Linked DNA regions of Homo sapiens. The protein of the gene in region 1 interacts with the protein of each later gene in a pairwise test. Each region holds a gene or a part of one and is shown on either strand. Other genes may lie near its edges.

Region 1 (10,240 bases):
ATTTGGTGAAGAGGTCATTTAGTAAATCGGCTTTCAACGACTTGCCCTATGAGATTTCTCTAGAGTGAGCATTTTCTTGGGTTAAATGTACATTTCATTTCCATAATGAATACTCACTAGCGGCTAGATGGGAAACTTCCCAGGAAACCAGGAGCAGCCAGAAGAGCCTCTTAATAATCAGGCAATTAAAAACCCTCTGGTTTCTTAACAGGAGGGAGGTACAGACGGCATCTGCTCTGCAAGGCGCAGTGATCGGGCTCAGCATTGTCACAGGAGCTCTTGCGGTTCTGTTTGTTGCTAGTGTGACATACACAGCCATTCATCGGAAAAAGGACTGAGTGGTCTTTGGGTCTCCCATAGTTGATCATCATATGTCGTGATAACCCATGACAACTCCTTGCCACATGCCACGGGAGGTCCAGCACTCCAAGAACCCAGCAGCCAGGGCCGGCTTCATAGGCTTGCAACCTGGACAGTCCCACAGGGACACAGAAGAGTCCCCACTGTGGTTTAATAATCTGCCATCACCATCTTCAAATTCTTTATTTTTTAACAAGGGTGGCCAGGGATAGTGGCTCATGCCTGTAATCCTAGCACTTTGGGAGGCCAAGGCAGGCAGATGGCTTGAGCCCAAGAAGTTTGAGACCAGCCTGGGCAACACAGCAAGACCCCATCTCTACAGAAAATACAAAAATTAGCCAAGCGTGTAGTCCCAGCTACTTGGAGGCTGAGATGGGAGAATTACCTGAGCCCAGGGAGGTCGAGGCTGCAGGAGGTGAGATTGTACCACTGTACTCCAGCCTGGATGACACAGCGGATTCTTGTCTAAAAAAAATAACCACAAGGCCGTGCACGGTGGCTCATGCCTGTAACCCCAGCACTTTGGGAGGCTGAGGCAGGCGGATCACTTGAGGTCAGGATTTTGAGACCAGCCGGCCAACATGGTGAAACCCCATCTCTACTAAAATAGAAAAATTAGCTAGACAAGGTGGCGCATGCCTGTAATCCCAGCTACTCAGGAGGCTGAGGCAGGAGAATAGCTTGAACCTGGGAGGAGGAGGTTGCAGAGAGCCAAGGTCGCGCCATTGTACTCCGGCTTGGGGCACAAGAGTGAAACTCCATCTCCAAAAAAAAAAAAAACCACAACACAACAAGGGCCCCGCATGTGACTGAAAACAACAGAAATGTATTGTCTCGCAGGCCTGGATGCCAGAAGCCCAAAATCAAGGTGTCGGCCGGGCTTCGCTTCCTCTGAAATATGTAAGAGAGAATACTTCCTTGCCTCTTCTGGCTTCTGGTGGCCGCTGGTAATGCTTGGTGTTCCTTGTAGATGCATCGCTCCCATCTCTCCTCCCTCATCACATGGCTGCCTTCTCCCTGTGTCTCTGTCTTCACCTGACATTCTCCTCTTTTATTTTTTTGAGATGGAGTTTCCCTCTGTCACCCAGGCTGAAGTGCACTGGCACAATCTTGGCTCACTGTAACCTCCGCCTCCTAGGTTCCGGTGATTCTCCCGCCTCAGCCTCCTGAGTAGCTGGGATTACGGGCGCCCGCCACCACGCAGTGCTAATTTTGTGTTTTTAGTAGAGATGGAGTTTCACCATGTTGGCCAGGCTGGTCTCGAACTCCTGACCTCAAGTGATCCACCCACCTCACCCTCCCAAAGTGTGCTGAGATTACAGGCATGAGCCACCATGCCCGGCCCTCATTCTCTTCTTTTATCAGGACGCCGGTCATTGCATCTGCCTCCTCACCAGCAGCCCCCAATCCAGTACGATTCATCATTACTTGATTACATCTAGAAAGACCCTATTTCCAAATAAGGTCACATTCCTGGGTACGGAGGATTAAGATTTCCAATTTTTTCCCTGACTCAATTTTTTTTGAGTCAGGGCCTCACCCTGTCACCCAGGCTGGAGTACAGTTATGTGATTATAGCTCACTACAGCCTCAAACTCCTGGGCTCAAGGGATCCCTTGACCTCAGCCTTCCAAGTGGCTGAGACTACAGGCGCACACCATCATGCCCAACTAATTTTTTTGGTTTTTTGTGGTTTTTTTGTACAGGTTAGGTCTCACTCTGCTCACTCTGTTGACCAGGCTGGTCTCCTGACCTCAAGTGATCCTCTTGCCTTGGCCTCCCAAAGCACTGAGATTACAGGCGTTATCCCGTGCCTGGCCCTCTTTCTACACCTCAGTCATTGCATCATTAGCCTGAGCTGCGCATATTCCTTATTCTACCCATCCCTGACCAACCTCCTCCTTTAACATAACTTCCACCTCGATATCATGGGGCCTGCTGGGCACTGCAAACAGCCTAAGGAAAGTGGAAACTTTACTTAACCTTCAATTCTATTGCAAAGTCCACATTGAACGTAATTTATATTTGAACTATAAAATTTTCTGTAAGTTGAAACATGACCTATAAAGGTCTCTACACCCTGAAGCAACGTTTTAGAAAGAAATCAATTGGTCCTTTTCTGCAGAAACCATTAACCATAGGAGAGATAAAGGAAAAACTTCAATGGACTGATTGAACTTCCATGCCCATAGCTTAACTTCTAAAAGGCAACCATTCCATACTGTTAAACTGCCTTAGGTTGTTATTACTGTTATTAAAGAGACCCTCAAAGCCGGAAGTTGAATCTCGACTGTAGTTCTTGCACGTACACGCAAACTCTTGCAACTGAAACCAGCTTGTCCTGATGCTGCTCCCCGTAGCAACACCGCCTGGAATTTCACGTTTGTTTTTAAGCATCAGTCCTAATCTTCACTTGCACCCGAACACACCGCACCTGTGACAGCCACGTGACATTAAAAAAATCCCTTCAGTGAGGCCGGGCATGGTGGCTCACGCCTGTAATCCCAGCCCTTTGGGAGGCCAAGGCAGATGGATCATGAGGTCAAGAGATTGAGACCATCCTGACCAACATGGTGAAACCCCGTCTCTACTAAAAATACAAAAATTAGCCGGGCATGGGGACGCGTGCCTGTAGTCCCAGCTACTCCGGAGGCTAAGGCAGGAGAATCGCTTGAGCCCGGGAGGCAGAATTTGCAGAAGCCGAGATCGTGCCGCTGCACTCCAGCCTGGCGACAGAGGGAGACTCTAGACTCTCTGAAACAAAAAAAATCCCTTCAGTGCCTTGATCCTTCCAGATTCAGATCCAAGAGAGATGACATTTGTCCCTCATCTGAACCCGCACACCAAGATAAAGATTTCTTCTGGCCAGGCGCGGTGGTTCACGCCTGTAATCCCAGCACTTTGGGAGACAGAGGCGGGCGGATCACCTGCGGTCAGGAATTTGAGACCAGCCTGGCCAACGTGTTAAAACCCTGTCTCCACTAAAAATACAAAAATGGCCCGGCATGGTGGCTCACGCCTGTAATCCCAGCTACTCGGGAGGCTGAAGCAGGAGAATCGGTTGAACCCGGGAGGTAGAGGTTGCAGTGAGCCGAGATTGCGCCATTGCACTCCAGCCTGGGCAACAAGAGAACGAAACTCCGTCTCAAAAAAAAAAAAAAGAAAAAAAGATTTCTTCTGTGCTCATGGCTCAGCTCTGTGGTCTGCTAGGGTCCTTCCTCAATCTGCTTGCAATCTATGGAATCAGGAAAGACTGAACCAACCTAGATTTATTAATATTTTAGTATAACATAATACAGTGTTACTTATTACAGCATTGACCGTATATGCCCTTTTGCTCCTTGGAGGAAAGGCAATTAATAGCTATTATGTGAGTTAATAAAATAAGCCCAGGATTTATGAGTGTAACTAACTTGTTACCATTGGTTTTCCTTGTCTCCTGCAGGCAGAGAGCTGATCAAAACAGCAAAAGCAAAGCAGTGCCCCTGGCCCAGTTCTGAAGCCAACCTTCCTTAAGCACCCAGACCCATCCCTGGTTAGGACTTGCTGTGGATTATCAGGTGACTCTATCTCAGGATACAGGGACTGAGAGGGTGTATGCAATATCTCAGACCCAGAAACTGTTGATTCTGTCTAAAAACACAGCAATAACCACATCCCACCCTCTTGATTTAAATGAAAGTGTTTGGGGGAATAAAAGATGAACCTTTTTTTTTTTCTTTGTCAGATCTTGAGCTCATTTGGTTCTGGTGGGGAACAACAGCTATGCGAGAACAAGTGTATTCTATTAGAATTAATTCCCCTCTTATTCTCATAGCTGAGCAGGGCTCAAGAGCCTCTCATCTGAAAGAGGTAATAAGATTTAATCTGTCTCCTCATCTACCTTCTGCAAGTATACTTTACAAATTAGCTCTCGGGACTCTTCCAAATGGAGTTTTATGAGGGATTTGCTAAGGTAAACGTTTTAGACTTTGAACACAGTTCAGATTTCAGGGGCAGTACTGAAATCTGAACTGTGTTGCTAACTGCCCTGCCTTTCAACTCAAGACACAATAACTTTGAACTAAATTAATTATATTTTTGTTGTTTTCCACTCTGTCCCCACGTCTATATCACCACCACCCCCAATCCCACCCCGCAGGAGCTAACTCCTCCTTCCTGTCCCTGCAAGATCAAAACTCCTCCTGCAAGCCCCGCTAGCTCTGTCTGCTCGCCTTCGTGGCAGATATCGCTATTGTACTTTTATACTCATTTGTGTGATAAATACTTCAATGTCCACTTCTTCCACGAGCCCCTGAGCCCCTGGAGGGCCTGGACCACACCTAGTTTTTCTCACCGTTACATCTCCCTTGTCAGGTACCTGGTAGGCGCTTAATAAGTATTTGGTGAACGAATGGCTTGTTTGGTGACAGTCCAAAGGCTGGGGGACAGAGGGAAAGCTCCCTCCTTTCGGACCCCAGACGGGTGGCGCTGATGGAGAGGAGGCTTGGATAAGGCCTCCAGGACCGAAGCGCGCACCCGTAGGGCCCCTGCCAAAAAGACCTTCCTGAAGGCGGAGGAACTGCGAGAGTGCCTACGTTGGCCCAAGGCCTGACCCGACGATCCCAGGGACCCTCGCCCTAACCGGCCCCGCCTCCCGGTCCCCAAACCCGGACTCGGCCCCGCCCTAAGCTCCGGATCCTGGGGCCCGCCCCTGGCCCCGCGTCGGCAGACCGTGGCCTCGCTGCTGGGCCTGCCTCAAACCCTCCACAGGTAACGCCTCCCGAACTTGAGCCACATTCCGATCCCCTCCTCAAACCCCTCCCCGTTTCCCACGCCCTGGACCCCTCGCTCCGTCTCGGCCCCGCCCCAAGCCCAGCTAGGTCTCGGCCCCTGAGCCCAGCCCCGACCGGCCTCCCAGTCCCTGGGTCCCTCCCGACACCGGCCCCTCCCTAAGCTCCGCCTCCCAGGGCCCGCCTCCTGAGCGCAGCCCGCAGCCCGGACTCGGCCCCGCCTCCCGGACCCTGGGCCCCTCCCCACGTCGGCCCGTCCTAAGCTCCGCCTCCCAGAGTCCGAGCACCGCCTGGCCATGTGCTACGACATAGTCAACGCCCCGCCCCGGCCCCGCCTCCTGAGCTCTTCTCTGGGTCTGGCCTTAGCGCCGCCCTAAGACCTGTCTCCTGGGCTCTGCTCCGAGTCTCGCCTCCTGAACCCAATGGCGTTTATCCCTGCCCTAATGCCCGCCTCCAGGACTCTTATCCTGCCCCCACGCAAGGCCCCGCCTCCAGGACGCCACCAACCTGGACGCTTCTGAAGCCCAGCTTCCAGGATCGCCCTATCCTGGCCCCGCCCCAGGACCCGCCAACCTGGACTCTACCCAGGACCTGCCCCCTACCCAGGACCTGCCCCAACGACGCTTATCCTGGCCCCACCCCAGGCCCCGCCCTCATAACAATCATCCTGGCCCCGCCCTAGAGTCCGCCCCCACGACGTTCCTCCTGACCCCCGGGGGACCCCCGGGCCCCGCCCCCTCTCTGCCCCCGCTCACTGCCCTGGGCCCGCCCCCTCTTCAGTCCAGGCCGGGCTTCCGCCCGGTCTGCCGGCAACGCTGCGGCCCCGCCCACGTCATGGCGCCCGAGGAGAACGCGGGGACCGAACTCTTGCTGCAGAGTTTCGAGCGCCGCTTCCTGGCGGCACGCACACTGCGCTCCTTCCCCTGGCAGGTGGGCGGCGGGGCGAGCGGAGAGGCCCGCGGGGCTCGCGGGAGTCCAGGGGCAGACGGGACGGGTCTCCGTGCTGAAGCCCCTGGCGCTCCCGCCACGTGAGTTCCTGGGCTCCCGCCGGTCAGGGCCGCGCGACCCGGTCCCCGTCCCTGGGGCCTGGCCAGAGTCGCTCGCACCCCTCCTGCCCCGCGAGCTGGCGGGGGAAGCTGGGGGCGTCTCCACAGCCTTGGGGGGCAGACGCGCGCTCGGTGTGGGGTACAGTTCACGATCATTTTCACGACTTTTTAAAGGCAGTAATCGTTCTGGTCACTGGGACACAGCTGCCCTCGCCCATTCTAAAAAGTCAGCGCCGTCAGGACCGCAGGTAACCACGTCCTCCTGAGCGCGGTGACCGGGTCACAGGCTGTCCCTCGTGCCTCAGTATTCTCATCTGTATGTTGAGCACTGCACAGAATCGGCTCATGCTCTGAGGCTGTCACGCCTGTGATGGAAGAGACAGAGAAGGGGGTGGCCTCTCCTCGCCCTGGGGACCTGCCATTCTCAGCACAGGCCCATGGCAGGCAGCAGCCTCCCTTCTGCCAGCAGAGGGGCTTAATGCACCCGGCCTCATTTGTAATTCATGTGCGGTGAGCTCACTGGGATGAGTGAGTTTGGATATATATTCCTCCCTGGGTCTGCCCCATTTTATGGGGTGTTGCTTAATCATTTGCGTTATTCCATTGACATAAAATATTTGCACTCAGAGATCATTTCTGGTCAAGAGAAATTCGTGCATTTTTAACCCAAAATAGAAACCTTCATAAAAGCATCATAGGTCTCCATTCAGTATTGACTGTAATTGTTCACATGCCCACGCTGAATGCTAACTTGGGCTCACCCTCAACACCCACGAGGTGGGTACTATTATTACCACTCACATTTGACCAGAGGGATTGTTTGATTAGGGTGCAGTAGTTGAGAGTTCAGACCCAGGAGACAGCCTGTCTGCTTCGAATCCTGGCCCAGCCCCTGGCCCTGTGTGACCTTGGGCAAGTGACTGCATCTCTCTGTGCTGTTTTCTTATTAATAAAATGGGGGATATAATGATACCTACCTCTTAGGGTTGTTGTCAGGGTTGAGTACAAAAGCCTGTGGATCAGTGCCTGGCTCATGGTAAATACATGTTGGTGTTAGCTAGTGTTTTTATTCAGTCTCAAAATGTTTAATAAATGCCTTCTGTGAGCCAGGCACCATGGATCAGCAGTACCCATGACAGATGAGGCTCTGCTTGCATGGGAGAGCCAGAGAATAAACAAATAAATAAACAAGAAAAGACCAGATGACAGTGGCTTTAAAGCCAATAAAACAGGGAAATAGTGAATGCGGGAACTGGGAAGAAGAGTCACCAAAGTCAGGGAATCAGGGAAGCCTTCCCCAAAGAGGTGGCATTTGAACTGGGGCCTGAGTGGTGAAGCAGCCAGCCATGGGAAGGGCTTGGGGAACAGGATATGCAAAGGCCCTGTGGTGGAAACAAGCCAGCTGTGGTTGAGGAACAACACCAAGGCAGCCAGTGTGGCTGGAGTGGAGTGAGCAGGGTGGGCCAGGGGTGAGGGAGAACAGGCCAGAGAGAGGGATTAGGACCAGGTCTTGTAGGGCCTTTTATGGCATGGAGGGAGCTCTGAAGCAATGAAGTGCCTTGCCCTGTGTCACATACCAGCCGAGACAGTCTGCCTAACTCGGGAGCCAAGGCTCGCTGCTGGGCTTGAGGCCCCTGTAAGAGGATAATGTAACTCAGGCTGGTATGGGCACATTCTGCATCTCCACTTAGATGGCAAGCCCATCAAACCTTGGTGCCATGGCTGCCCTGGTAATTCCTGGCTGAGCAGTGCAACCAGGGAGCTGGCCCATGACCCGGGTGGCCGCTAAGTAGCCAGGACTAATGTGGCCAAAAGTCAGCCTTCTTCCTGTGACTCATCCAGGTGCACCCTGCGACATCTGAATGTCAGGCTTTCAGCCGCTGTGGCTTCCACTTCCAACTGGCTCCACGTCCCCAGGGAGGGATCACACAGCGCTTTGCCAACACATTCTATTGCGTGTTTAATGTTCCTGTGAATGCGCCCTTGAGATTTCTCTCTTTCCCCTCCACACAGAGCTTAGAAGCAAAGTTAAGAGACTCATCAGATTCTGAGCTGCTGCGGGATATTTTGCACAAGGTAAGAATCCCAGAGTCCCTGGGACTCATGACCCTGCCTCCTGAATCTCTCCAGAAGACCTGAGAGAAGAACTGCAGGTGTGCTTGTACCCTTTAAAAACACCCCTGTTCAAAAAACAAAACCATTGAGTCAGCACTGCAGGTGGGTGTCAGCACCTCTGACAGCTCCAGCGCTTTCGTTTTCTATTTAAGACTTAGACAAAGACTTCAGAATATACAAAAACCTGCAATGAGAGGGGGGAATCTAGGGAATGTTTTTTAAACCATCCACAGCAAAAACAGAGATGACAGGTGCAAAACAGCTTCTAGCATTTGGTTGATGTTCAGAGACTTTCTTTTTTGCTTTCATGAGGCCTGTCCTGCCCACTCCTGTCTCCTCTAGACCTAAATGGGCCCTTGCTTTGCCCAGGGTGGGGTTTGGACTCAAGTGCATCTGCCTGCAGGTGAGAGGCAGGATCACCACCCGGCCCAGCCACAGCCTGACCTTGGCCTTGAGGGCCAAGTGCAGATCACCCTGCATCCTGGGTCTTCACGTTCGAAGGGCCATGAGCCCTTCTGAAAAGACCAAGCAATAGACTCCCTCGCAGAAAGAAGTGCACCAGAAGAATACATTTTCCATACAAACTCAGGAGGCAGATATCCTCCACCCCCACCCACCCAGCCCATCCTAGGAGCCCCGGTGAAGAATTCCTGTGCTAGAGGTGAACCAAGATTATCCATGTGGAAAAGATACAGCCACAGCAGGGAAAACTTTCGGGGCAATACCAGGGCTTCGAGCATGGAGATACCTGAAGTTATCTCGCACCCTGCTCTGAGTTTCACCCTGAGCCTCACTCTCGTAGGTGGTGAAGCATGAAATGTAGGGAGAGCTGCTTTAAAACCCAGCACAAGGCTGGGTGCACTGGCTCACACCTGTAATCCCAGGACTTTGGGAGGCTGAGGTGGACAGATCACCTAAGGTCAGGAGTTCCAGACCAGCCTAGCCAACATGGCAAAAACCCATCTCTACTAAAAATACAAAAATTAGCTGGGCGTGGTGGTACATGCCTATAGTCCCAGCTACTCAGGAGGCTGAGGCAGGAGAATCGCTTGAACCCAGGAGGCAGAGGCTGCAGTGAGCCAAGATCGGGCCACTGCACTCCAGCCTGGGCAACAGGGCGAGACTCTGTGTCAGAATAAATGAAAAACCAGCACCAGCCTGAAGAGCCTGTGTATTGCGTGGGGTACTTTGCTGCCCTTGGGCAGAATCTGCATCCCTCCCAGCCAGCAGGCACTGTGGACCGTCTCCTCCCTCTCCCTCCAGGCTCCTGTTTTCCCGCCGTCCCCACTCCTGCTGCACCAGTCCCTCTGCCCTCCTTTCCAAGTGCCAGGCTGTGGCCACCTCAGAGCTTGCACCAGCTGTTCCCACTGCCTAGAACTTGCTCATCCTGCATTTGGCTTCTCTGGGCTTTAGCTGGAGTGTCACCCGGAGCGTCCCGTCCCCTCCATCCTGTCCCCAGGGACACACACTCCAAGAGAGCAGTTGCCGAGTGGGCCTTCCCGCCTCTTCCATAGAGCCAGACCGTTGGCGACTGTCCTTACTGCAAACCCTGGTTCACACTGGCTCCCCTGGGAGGGAGGCGGTTTGGGCCCACATGCCCTGTGTTCCTGCTCAGAATGGGCGTTAGAAATGCTGCCATAGCCTGTGCCACTGCAGTGGAAGCATTTTTAGGAAACAGCTTATATCTTAAGACAAACTTCAGATGCATGGGGCCAAAACGCTGTGTCCATCTACATCTTTGCTGAGGGATCGGGTAGCCTGGAGTTTGCCCTCTGCTGTGTTGGCTTGAAGCTCATAGGAGACTTAAGACGGGCTCTCGAGCAACCAACGTTCTGTCCTTTGCCGTAGACTGTGAAGCATCCTGTGTGTGTGAAGCACCCGCCGTCCGTCAAATATGCCCGGTGCTTTCTCTCAGAACTCATCAAAAAGGTCAGTTATGGGCAGTGT
Region 2 (6,604 bases), 2.0 Mb from region 1:
GCTGAAGTGCGAATGTTCCAGACAGGAGGTTTTAGCTCCATGCAGGGTCTGCTGATGTTTATTTGCATTTTGCTCTAGGCCTGGCTCTGGGGACACAAGGGTGTGCATAGAGCCAGCTCCAGAGTGGGGCGAGAAGGTGGAGCTGTCCGGGGCCTCTGCTACCTTGTGGGATGTTGGGTCCTTCACATTGGATGCATCTGGGGAGGTTCTAATGAGTGGCTGGGGGATGGGGTTCTGCCTTTGGCAGGAGGGTCCCCAGCTACCCCCTTGCTAAGTGGCTGTGATTCTGGCCTTTCAGGGCTGGTTCTTGCCTCGTGAATGATCGGGGAGCATCCTTGGGCACACAGCATTACCTGGTATCACATTCTCCTCCGGACTTTTCCTGGGGCACCATATTGGTCTCCTTCCCACACCCCAGCATCCTGAGGGTCATGTCCTGTGTCTCCTTCCCAGGGAGTAAACTCTGTCTCCCCCGGTCTGGTCTCGGGCTGATGAGCATGTTGTGGTTCCTGCACAGGATGTGCCCTCGGAGGAGGCGGAACCCGAGGCTGCAGGCCGGGGATCCCAGGCCACGGGGCCTCCCCCGACGGTGGGGGCACGGAGGCGGCCGTCTGTTCCCCAGGAGCAGCACAGCCATAGCGGTGAGTAAGCCTCCGTTCTTGTGGACAGTCGAGTGGCTGGGCAGGGACCTAGCTTTGTCACCGGCGTTGCCCTAAGGGTCACAGGCAGGACAGCTCCCTCTGTGAAGTCCAGGGCGTGTGTGCATGCGCACAGGCTGGGGAGGCCATAGGCGTCGGTGTCAAGCCTGGGCTGGCCTTTCTAAGGCTCCATTCTTCTCCTTCAGCCCAGCCTCCTGCTCTTCTTAAAGAGGGTCGTCCCGGAGAGACGACGGACACCTGCTTTGTCTCTGGGGTCCATGTGAGTCACCAGTCCCTTTGTCTTCTTTAAGGCACTTGGCCCTGTTGAGTTTGTAAAATGGGACTTGCTGTCCCATCAGGCCTCTTTCATCTGACCCATCCTGTCCCCGCCAGTGCTGCTGGGAGGCCTGAGCCGGGTCTTCTCACCCCATTCCAGGGACCTGTGGCATTGGGAGACATCCCATTCTATTTCTCCCGGGAAGAATGGGGCACCCTGGACCCTGCTCAGCGGGATCTCTTCTGGGACATAAAGCGGGAGAACTCCCGGAACACCACCCTGGGTAAGCACCCAGGGCCTTTGGGTCCAGGCTGGCCGCCCCCGATTCTGCTGGAACTTCAGTCTTGTTTCCCACCCCATCCTTAGCTGGTTCCAAAGCAGGCTCTCCCTAGGTCTTGCCAGGAGCCTGAGTAACTCCTTTCTTGGCTGATGATCAGTTTTTGTGCGTTTCCACATGCAGCATGGGACGGCGCCGGCGCTGCCCAGCCCTGCAGTTGCTCTAAGGGCAACTTCTCCTTTGAGTCTCACAACCTAGTGCATGGAAGTATTGTCCCCATTTTACGCATAAGGGACCTGAGACTCAGGTCAGTGGATGCTGAAGGGACACAGCTGGGACTTGGATCAGGCACAGTTGTGAGGCCACCTTGGGCTGCTAGGAGCAGGGGTGCTGACGGGGAACCCCAGCTGCTCACCAGCCTGGGCCCCTGCTCGTCAGAACTGCACTTACCAGGTTCCTCTCCATGCCAGGCCCCTTCTCAGCACCATCAGGGATCATCTTGTTCAGTCACACTCCCAGGAGGATGGGCTGCGACCTCTGTCCAGATCTGTGTTGAGTTTGGAGAACTAGAGCCTGCGTGGTGAAGGGAGCCACACTAGCTAGACCAGTTTGGCTCCTCAGTTTCCGACTGTGACGGTTGGGAAAAATTTTCTTTCTTTTTTTTTTTTTTGAGATGGAGTCTTGCTCTGTCGCCAGGCCGGAATGCAGTGGTGTGATCTCAGCTCACTGAAACTTCCACCTCCCGGGTTCAAGCAATTCTCCTGCCTCAGCCTGAGTAGCTGGGATTACAGGCATGAGCCACCATGCCCGGCTAATTTTTTTGTATTTTTAATAGAGACGAGTTTTCACCATGTTGGTCAGGCTGGTCTCGAACTCCTGACTTCATGATCCGCCTGCCTCAGCCTCCCAAAGTGCTGGGATTACAGGCGTGAGCCACCGCGCCCGGCCCTTGAAAAGTTTCAGAATTACTATAAATCTGTTCTGCTGTGGAGCTTGATATCTGGGGTTCAGAGTGGGACATTGGATCCCAGTGTGGCCTGCAGGGCACAGATGGCTTAGGGGGCTGGCCCATGCAGGCGGGATCAGAGGCTTATTCAGACTGCTGCTCTGCCGAATTTTTTCATCATCCCTGATTTATTTGGGTTTTTGTTTGTTTTTGAGACAAAGTCTCGCTCTTGGAGTGCAATGGCATGATCCCGGCTTACTGCAACCTCCGCTTCATGGGTTCAAGTGATTCTTCTACCTCAGCCTCCTGAGTAGCTGGGATTACAGATGTGCGCCACCATGCCCTGCTGATTTTTGCATTTTTTAATAGAGACGGGGTTTCACCATGTTGGCCAGGCTGGTCTCGAACTCCTAACCTCAGGTGATCAGCTCGCCTCAGCCTCCCAAAATGTTGGGATTACAGGCTTGAGTCACTGCGCCTGGCCAATCATCCCTGTTTTATAGATGAGGAACCTGAGAATTCAGCTGTGTGAACCCAGGGCTTTCTGAACCTGGAGGCCAGGGAGCTTTCCCCAGCCTTGTTTCTTCCTCACCTCAGCTCTGGCCCCAGAACCGCGTGGGACTGAAGAGGTCGCCTCCTTCCCCTTGCAGGTTTTGGGCTCAAAGGCCAAAGTGAGAAGTCCCTGCTGCAGGAGATGGTGCCGGTGGTGCCAGGCCAGACAGGCAGCGACGTGACTGTGTCCTGGAGCCCCGAGGAGGCTGAGGCCTGGGAGAGCGAGAACCGGCCGAGGGCGGCCCTGGGCCCAGTGGTGGGCGCGCGACGGGGGCGGCCACCCACTCGCCGGCGCCAGTTCCGGGACCTGGCAGCCGAGAAGCCGCACAGCTGCGGGCAGTGTGGAAAGCGCTTCCGCTGGGGCTCGGACCTGGCGCGGCACCAGCGCACGCACACGGGCGAGAAGCCACACAAGTGCCCTGAGTGCGACAAGAGCTTCCGCAGCTCCTCGGACCTGGTGCGCCACCAAGGCGTGCACACGGGCGAGAAGCCCTTCTCCTGTTCCGAGTGCGGCAAGAGCTTCAGCCGCAGCGCCTACCTGGCCGACCACCAGCGCATACACACGGGCGAGAAGCCTTTCGGCTGCAGCGACTGCGGCAAGAGCTTCTCGCTGCGCTCCTACCTGCTGGACCATCGGCGTGTGCACACCGGTGAGCGGCCCTTCGGCTGCGGAGAGTGCGACAAGAGCTTCAAGCAGCGCGCGCACCTCATCGCGCATCAGAGCCTGCACGCCAAGATGGCCCAGCCCGTGGGGTGAGCAGCTGGCTTGGCCGGAAACCCGGGGGAGGCCCAGCCACGGCACATCCTGCTTTGTTCACCACTGGGACTCTCCTTCCATCTGTGGCCACCTCCCGGGCTGTCCGAGGGACCCCAGGGTACCTCACACTCGGAGCTCGCCTGCCCTGCTTGGCTCTGAGGACCTGCCCAGCGCTCAAAGGGAACGGAAGCCTTCCCCTCCCGCCCCCGATCTTGTCCTCTTTCCCCCTTCTGCGCCTAGCGTTCCTCTTCCCCTCTAGTTTCCTGGAGCCCCAACACATTCCTGGCAGGGACAGCAGGGTGGCAAGGACTCAGGTCTAGGTCCCTTCCCAGAAGCCCCCGAGCCTCATTTGACTGTGTGGCTCTTTGGCCCCCACCCTGTGGGGTGGGTCCATGGGTCAGGCCTCTGCCCTACCAACCTGTGCCTTTCAGTGGGCGTGGAGGACTGGCCTTGGCCCCCCAGGGGGCTGCTGGACTTTGGGAGAGACAGCCCACACCTGTGGGACCGCGGGTCTTAGTCACGGCGGCAGGGGCTTTCTGGCCCCCTCCCACTCCCGTTTCCAGGCCATGACCACTCTGCCCTGTCCTGGCCATACGGACTCGGCCTGCCTTTGCCCTCGGCCTACTTGCCCTAGCATGAGGCTCTGAGAGCCACCTGCCCACCAATCTGGTGAGGATAATGGTGGCTCCAGCGACAGGAGGCCAACCCTGGAGACCAAGAACAGGGCGCCTGGCTGCCATCTTTTCCTCCAGAGGTGGGGCTGCACCAGACTCAGCACTAGCACTCCATCAGCACTAGCACCTCACTCCATCAGCACTAGCACCTCACTCCATCGGCCCCGGCACCCTGCTCCATCGGCACTGGCGCCCTGCTCCATCGGCACTAATGCTCCACTCGGCGCCCCACTCCATCGGCCCCGCTCCATCGGCACTAATGCCCCACTCGGCGCCCCACTCCATCAGCACTAATGCTCCACTCCATTGGCACTAACGCCCCAACTCCAGCGGCACTAATGACCCGCTCCTTTGACATTGGTGCCCCACTCCATCAGCACTAACGCCCTGCTCCATCGGCACTGGTGTCCCACTCCATTGTCACTAACGTCCGGCTCCATCGGCACTACCACCCCGCTCCATCATCACTATGTCCAGCTCCGTCGGCACTACCACCCTGCTCCATCATCACTACGTCCAGCTCCAACGGCACTGGTGCCCCATTCCATCGGCACTAACGCCCCGCTCCACCGGCACCAGTGCCTCGCTCCATTGGCACCAACGCCCAGCTCCACCGGTACTGGCTCCCTGCTCCATCGGCACTAACGCCCTGCTTCATTGGCACTTTGCTGCTGCCTCCTGAGCACTGCCTTCCATGAACAGGGACAGACCAGAGGCCCTGCAAGGACTCCCCCTCAGACCTCCAAAGGGCAACAGAAGAGTATTAATAAACGTGAAAACTTACCTCCAGGCTGTTCTGTTCTTTCGGTAGCTGGAGGGTGGGGATACCTGGAATATATGCCCCTTGCCCTGGCCTTGTGTCCTGGTGGCACATGCTGCTGCACCGTGACCAGGCGGAGCTGCGTCCTTGGCGTCCAGGTCGGCTGGGCCCCAATGGGCAGCCGTGTCCCCTGGGACTCTTGTCCCCCTGTGTCAGCTAGTGCCTGCCCTGCTCTGGGAGCACCGTCGGTGCTCCAGCAGAACGGGGAGCTGAGCAGGACTCAGGGTCTTCACCAGGCCACTCCTCTCCCACAACTGTGAAAGGAAGAAGGGCCCATAGACGCTGCTTGGTCAGTGGTGGGACCCTCTTGCTGCGTGTTGGGGATCTGGAACTCAAGGCTGCCCCAGGCTGAGTCCCTTGGAGGAGGGGCTGACAGCGGGCTTGCCCTTCCCACCAGCCCCTGACATCCAACTTCTCCCTACCAGGAGCCCCAGGCCGGGACCCACCAAGGGCTGGTGGGTGCGTGGTCAAAACTAGTGATCATCCAGGCACGACCCCTCCTTCCACCCATGCTGGTTCCTTCTCTTTCACCTGCTAGTGGCCTCAGGGCCCCTGGCTGAGGGGAGGCGGGGGCCGGTGGACAAGACGCTCTGGTCCCTTGGTAACAGGTGTGCATGTGCCAGCCCTCTCTGCCCCTAGGCCTTTCTTAGCCAACCTTCCATGCACACATCATCCTGCGGTCACTGTCATGGTCTCCGTTTCCCGTAAGAAGCAAGCAAGGTCTCGCTGTGGACAAGGCTGATTCCAGTTGGTGATTTTTACCTCTGGGGGCCTGGTGCTGTGTGCATGCGTGTGGCGGGTGGCCGGGATGGTACAAGGACTTCTTGGTGGCGGTGGCTGGCTCCAAATGGAGACACTCGGGTGTAACGAGATCAGATAAGCACGTAGGCCAGGAGCTAAGAATAGGATTGAGCACAGGTTCCTGGCTCGGGTAGGGGCATGTCAGTGCCAGCAAAGAAGTCACCAGCAGGAGCCAGAGAATGAAGCCCAGGCTGGGAGAGCGGGGCCAGGACCCAGGGTTCCAGGGATGGGGCAGAGTCCAGCTCAGCTCATAAGCAGAGCTGATAGTACTCGTTAGGGTAGAGGGCAAGGGTTAGGACCCAGGGCACTGAGAGCCCAGGGCCAGGAGGTGAGCTCCGAGCTTGGTGCTTGGAGGAAGCCCCGTCTCGCCCTATGGCCTTCCTGGTGGCTGGGACCCTGCGGCTGGCCACGCAGATGGCAGACACTCGAGACAGCCTGGGGAGAAAGGTAGCAGGAGGCACCGCCTAGCCCAGCTGCTCCTGCCTCCCTGCTGAGCCCCAGCCCAGCCCAGCCCAGCCCAGCTCTGGCCTTGCCTCCCCAGGGGAAGTATGACGTCCAGGGTCCAAGGGCAGCCCTGATGCTCAGCAGCCCTGGGGTGGCGGCCGCTGTAGTCACTGCCCTGGAGGACGTGTTCCAGGCCCTGGGCTTTGAGAGCTGCGAGAGGAGGGAGGTCCCGGTCCAGGTGAGCCTCTGCCTCTTACATCCACCCTCAGGCCCAGCACCGACCCCTTCCCCACTCTCCCCTGACCCAGAATCTCCTCCCCACCCAAAACCTCCCCGGACTCAGGTCGGTCTCACTCTTGCCCCTAGGGCTTCCTCGAGGAACTGGCTTGGTTCCAGGAGCAGCTGGATGCCCACGGGC
Region 3 (4,821 bases), on another chromosome or scaffold:
AGGCTTCCTGAGCCCTTTCTCAACTCTGTATGCTAGATCAGTCATTCTTCATTGTAGGTTGGCTTGTTTGCCTTGCCTCCTTCCTCCCGAGTAGTCCTTCGGGTCCAGGTCCCTCTTGGGCTCATCGTGTGCATTTCTCACCATTTCTCACTCCCTCCTGCCTCAATGAAAGGTCCTCAAGTTTGAGTGGCGACAGCAGCATATGGTGACTTGCATTTATATAATCTAAATTTTGTTCCTTTTTTTTTTTCTCTTTCTCTGTCTGCTAAGATGCTGGATTTGAGATTCCAAACTTATTTGTGGTGGGATATGCCTTAGATTACAATGAATACTTCAGAGATCTGAATGTAAGTCTTGCATGCAAATCCCTAACCGCCCTTTTTATAAGAACTTAACAATTTAAAAAAGTATTGAATGCGTGTTAGTGATGTCTGCTATTGATTGAGTATCTTCTATGTCAGGAGTATGGTGAGCACATTGCATCCATACTCCCAATTAACTCCCACTACTATTCTGCAGGGTAGGTATCAGGATGATAGAGGCAAATTATGATTATCTCTATTTTGTACTAAAGAAATAGGAAGCTAAAAGCAGAACTATGGTTTGACACTGATTCTTCTCCATAGTCATTGACTGTGCCCAACCAACCATAACAATAGCCAATATTCTATACACTGGTTTGTGTCAGTGCTTGAACTCTAGCAGGTTTCAATTACAGTGGCATGCAGCTCATAACTCTTCCCTCTTTGGGGGAAATGATCTCACCACACAGACGTGGACCCCCAGTGTGGACCCCAGCTGTGTGACCCTGACCAACACTGCATGATCTAGAGGTAGACAACTTACCCATAGTGGACCAATCAGTCTCTCTGTCCTGGGAATTAGAAATTTAAACCAAAAGTCACAGAGACTGAGTGTGTTCAGACTTCAACCACTAGGATAGCAGTGCCCCCAGAGAGTATCCATAGCACCATGGGTGAAAGTCTCTGGAGCTGCCCTTGTTCCTGCCTTCTAGTTGCTTCATTGCCCAGCTCATCCTTGGATTCTGAGAGCTACCCCAGTATTCCACCAATAAATTCCCCCTCCCCCCTCTTTAAAGACACAGGGTCTCACTCCACAGTCTCACCTAGGCTAGAGTGCAGTGACGCAATCATAGCTCACTGCAGCCTTGAACTCCCAGGCTCAAGCGATCCTCCCGCCTCAGCCTCCTGAGTAGCTGGGACTACAGGCACACGCCACTATGCCTAGCTAATATTTTTACTTGCTGTAGAGATGGGGTCTTCGTATGCTGTCCAGGCTGGTCTTGAACTCCTGGCTTCAAATCATGCTCCCACCTCAGCCTCCCAAAGTACTGGGATTACAGACAGGGGCCACTGAGCCCATCCAAATCCTCCTTTTTTGCTTACATTAGCCTGGCCCCATTTCTGTTGCTTTCAATCAAAATATTCCTAACCCTTTGCTTGTTGCCCAAAAAGGGTTGAATAAGAGCCCATGTTGTGCTTGCCACTGTTATTTCTCCATTCACCCAAGCAGTTGTCATCTTACCAGTAGGAGACTTCTGTTTCTAGCAGGGCTAAACATACAGCTCCCTCAGCATTTCTGGGTTTTAGGGACCTGGGGAGCCGGATTCAGAATAGGAATCTCCAAACTAAACCACAAAGGACCTTTTGTCAAGCACTTGAATGGGTCTCTTTAGATTTTACCCACACATATAAATACACACATTTCTATTTAAATGATCAATAGCCAATTACAGGATGGCATTCGGTTATTACTGCATCACCTTTTCTGTGTCTCATATTTTGTTAAGAAACTGATGCGTTTAAATCCTTTATTGTTTCAGCACATATGCGTCATCAATGAGCACGGTAAAGAAAAATATCGAGTCTAAAGACATGAATTCTCACCACTAAAGTCCCAGATAGCATCATATTTACGCCTGTACTTGGGAAGCCAGCTGTCAAGTTTGTCCCCCCAGGCATCTTCACTCAGCAGGATATAAAAGAAAAAAATGTTCAAATGAGAGAGCTTTCTTTTCTGAGGTTAATATAAAGAGTATCAAAGGTTCCTAAGGAAAAGAAAGCAGTGCTTTTATTTGACTTGTTCCAAATTAAACACTCCGCCTTGTGACTCAGCAATGCTATCTACCTTCACACTCCTGAGCTCCGCCTTCCTTTGTTTTGATACAGTCATTATATTTGATTAGTATTCCCAGGAATACCCCCACCTAGTTACTCAAATATTTTTCACTTAACTTTTTATACTCTTATTTTGGTAATAAGCTTACAATATTAAGAAGCTGGGGACTTTTTTTTAACTGAAGACTTGAGTCCCCTATACCGGGAATGCAGCTATTAATAGATTCCCATATTTTAAAAGGAGGGAAAGGACAATTTAATATAAATTTCTGTTTGTGCATTTCTGACAGGCCATTATTATCTGCTTTGACAAAGCCTTTCTGAAACGCAGTGTACAATGAATCTTAATGATGTTATGAAACGAGCTTTGCTCGGGGCTCTTGATTGGAGCTTCCGGTATGTGATGACGGTATGTCATGTATGCATGGATGTACTCAACTGTGTTTAATACTCTGAATTTTAATTAGAAAAAAATACAATAGCAGCAAGGCCCTGGTTTCTAAGCTGTATCCTTTTATTCATGTGGGACATGAGCAAATGGCAGAATTAGGGGCGAGTGCTTTCAATGCTCGAAACTAAGCAAGTATAAATTTTTCCTCTTATTTGCATGAAAGGACAAGACACTGTTATGCCCTGTCCTAAATGTGAAGACAGAGGTTGAATTTTTTAAAAAATATCTTTAAAAGACTGATCACAAAATCCAAGGTGCTACAGGAAACAAGCACACTCAAGAAAGTTTTTTTCTGAATAACATTTTTTTCCAATTTCTCCGTTTTATAAGACATTTCCTAATTTATGGGGATTTTAATTGAAAATAAACTTGAGTCCCAATAGAGCTGTTTTTTTCTCACTTCCTACAAAATGCAAATGCAAAATAAATAACTAAGCAGCTTTTGTTTGGTTCTGAACCGTATGTGGCGTATTGTTATTAGGTTCTAGCTTCCTTTAAACTAATAAAGAATAAGAAAACTTGTTATGTTTTATCACTTCTTACTGTTTTTCTTCCGCCTCCATATTTTTTAAATACTTTCAGACATTAACATGTATGTGAGTCAGTAGCTTAAATATACGACTGCATGTATCTATCCTGCGGCTTTATTTTTGTTAACTTGGATTAAATCCAATATATGCACTAGTAGAAGCAAATGATTAAGCTGGGCTAGATCTGCTGCTTTTTTTTTTCCTCAAGCTCGTTTGTGAGAACAAGGAATTTTAGTTGTAAAAGAAGATTTTCCTGCATATCTTTGTTTCGGTCAGAGAAGAAAACAAGCCACACCCAAATATCCCAAGGGATAAGTCTGCAAAAGGAATCTCTTCTAGCTTTGTTTCACAGAAGCATTGGTACCCAAGCTTAGATTTATAATTGTGTCTGACTGACGAATTTCTTGAAATACCAAAATTAACACTCTGAATATAGCTTTTTTTTCACAATGCCATGTTTATGTCAGAGGACCTAGAAAAATCCAGGCACACATTTGGTTTTAAGTGTAAAATTATCCATAAGTATGCAATATGAAAATGTTTTCTTAAAAACGTTGAATTTTAGTAAGCATCAGTATCCTTTCTGAGGACAGTCTGTTTATTCAAATTAGAAAGGAGATTGATCTACCTCACAAGATTGTGAGGACTTGTATAGTTAATGCTGAAAATTCACTAAATATGCAAGAAGTTTAATCATGCTTGCAGTTTTTTCCTACCAGACAATATTTTGACAGTGATAGCCAAGAAAGTCATCTTGGGAAAAATAGTATTTCCTTTTCTCTTGCAAAACTCATGTCTAGTTAATATCACTGAGTTTATTCACTCTAAACCAAAAATGCAAAACTTATTACTTGATTAATAACAAATCCATTATTAATTTAGTGTTCCAAAGCTGATTTGTAAGGGGGAAAATGTGTATGTGTGTGTGTGTGTATGTGTGTGTGCGTGTGCGTGTGTGTATGTGTGTGTGTGTGCGTGTGCGCGCGTGTGTGTGTATTTCACTGGGAAGTTTGGAATCAGTTATAATCAACATAATTAGTAATATTTTGGGATTTTCCAAACAAATTAGAACCCCTCATTATAAATTGGTCCTTTCTTACAGGGACTGGAATGTACTCATTTTTGACCCACGGACCCCCTAGATGTAAATGGCAAATAGTCAAATCCCGACATACCTTGTTTAATCTTTGCGTATAAGATGGCTTGCCATGTTTCAGGCCTTCTGAGACTGTGAAAACAGCCTTTCAGAGCACAGTCAGGCATTTGCTCAGCCTTCTGTGAAATCAACTTGTGTCTTCCCAATGGAGAGAAAAAGCAGGCTATTCCACATCCAGAGACCGGGTGTCATGGAAATATGCCCTCCCTTTTGTCATAGAGGTAGTGTGTTCTAGGAAGTTGAAACCCCAAACCACGCTCTCCACCCAGTTATCTGACTAATTTGGGCAAACTTAGCATTTGGGAGTTTTACTGACTTTGCAATCGTGAAGCTCCTTTGGATCCCAAGATGACAATTGAGAGCTAACAACAAGCCAGTTTCAGGAAGGGAAGAAGGGGATCTCAAGAGGGGCCTTTGCACGCTGCTGAGGGGAGGTGTGCAGAAATAGGAAGAGGGTGTGCATGGAGAGGGCTGCATTATTTCTTGGCCAGTCATACACCCATGATGGCTTCTGAGCCCGGTGCAAAGAGGAAGACTAAGACACCA

Evidence for each region. The genes of interacting proteins can lie anywhere in the genome.
Region 2: the proteins of EEF2KMT (region 1) and ZNF213 interact in binary tests that used the Homo sapiens proteins (3 or more experiments, as listed by UniProt).
Region 3: the proteins of EEF2KMT (region 1) and PRTFDC1 interact in binary tests that used the Homo sapiens proteins (3 or more experiments, as listed by UniProt).

Annotation. Positions count from the first base shown.
Region 1 is NC_000016.10:5,093,466-5,103,705, reverse strand, and holds the start of EEF2KMT (protein-lysine N-methyltransferase EEF2KMT), read left to right. Parts: upstream 1-5,910; 5' UTR 5,911-5,966; coding exon 5,967-6,062; intron 6,063-6,352; exon of another isoform or gene 6,353-6,426; intron 6,427-8,191; coding exon 8,192-8,254; intron 8,255-10,141; coding exon 10,142-10,222; intron 10,223-10,240. UniProt on the Homo sapiens protein: Catalyzes the trimethylation of eukaryotic elongation factor 2 (EEF2) on 'Lys-525'.
Region 2 is NC_000016.10:3,137,901-3,144,504, forward strand, and holds the end of ZNF213 (zinc finger protein 213), read left to right. Parts: intron 1-453; exon of another isoform or gene 454-517; coding exon 518-641; intron 642-844; coding exon 845-918; intron 919-1,074; coding exon 1,075-1,198; intron 1,199-2,735; coding exon of another isoform or gene 2,736-2,788; coding exon 2,789-3,447; 3' UTR 3,448-4,904; downstream 4,905-6,604. UniProt on the Homo sapiens protein: May be involved in transcriptional regulation.
Region 3 is NC_000010.11:24,846,914-24,851,734, reverse strand, and holds the end of PRTFDC1 (phosphoribosyltransferase domain-containing protein 1), read left to right. Parts: intron 1-270; coding exon 271-347; intron 348-1,843; coding exon 1,844-1,891; 3' UTR 1,892-3,121; downstream 3,122-4,821. UniProt on the Homo sapiens protein: Has low, barely detectable phosphoribosyltransferase activity (in vitro). Binds GMP, IMP and alpha-D-5-phosphoribosyl 1-pyrophosphate (PRPP). Is not expected to contribute to purine metabolism or GMP salvage.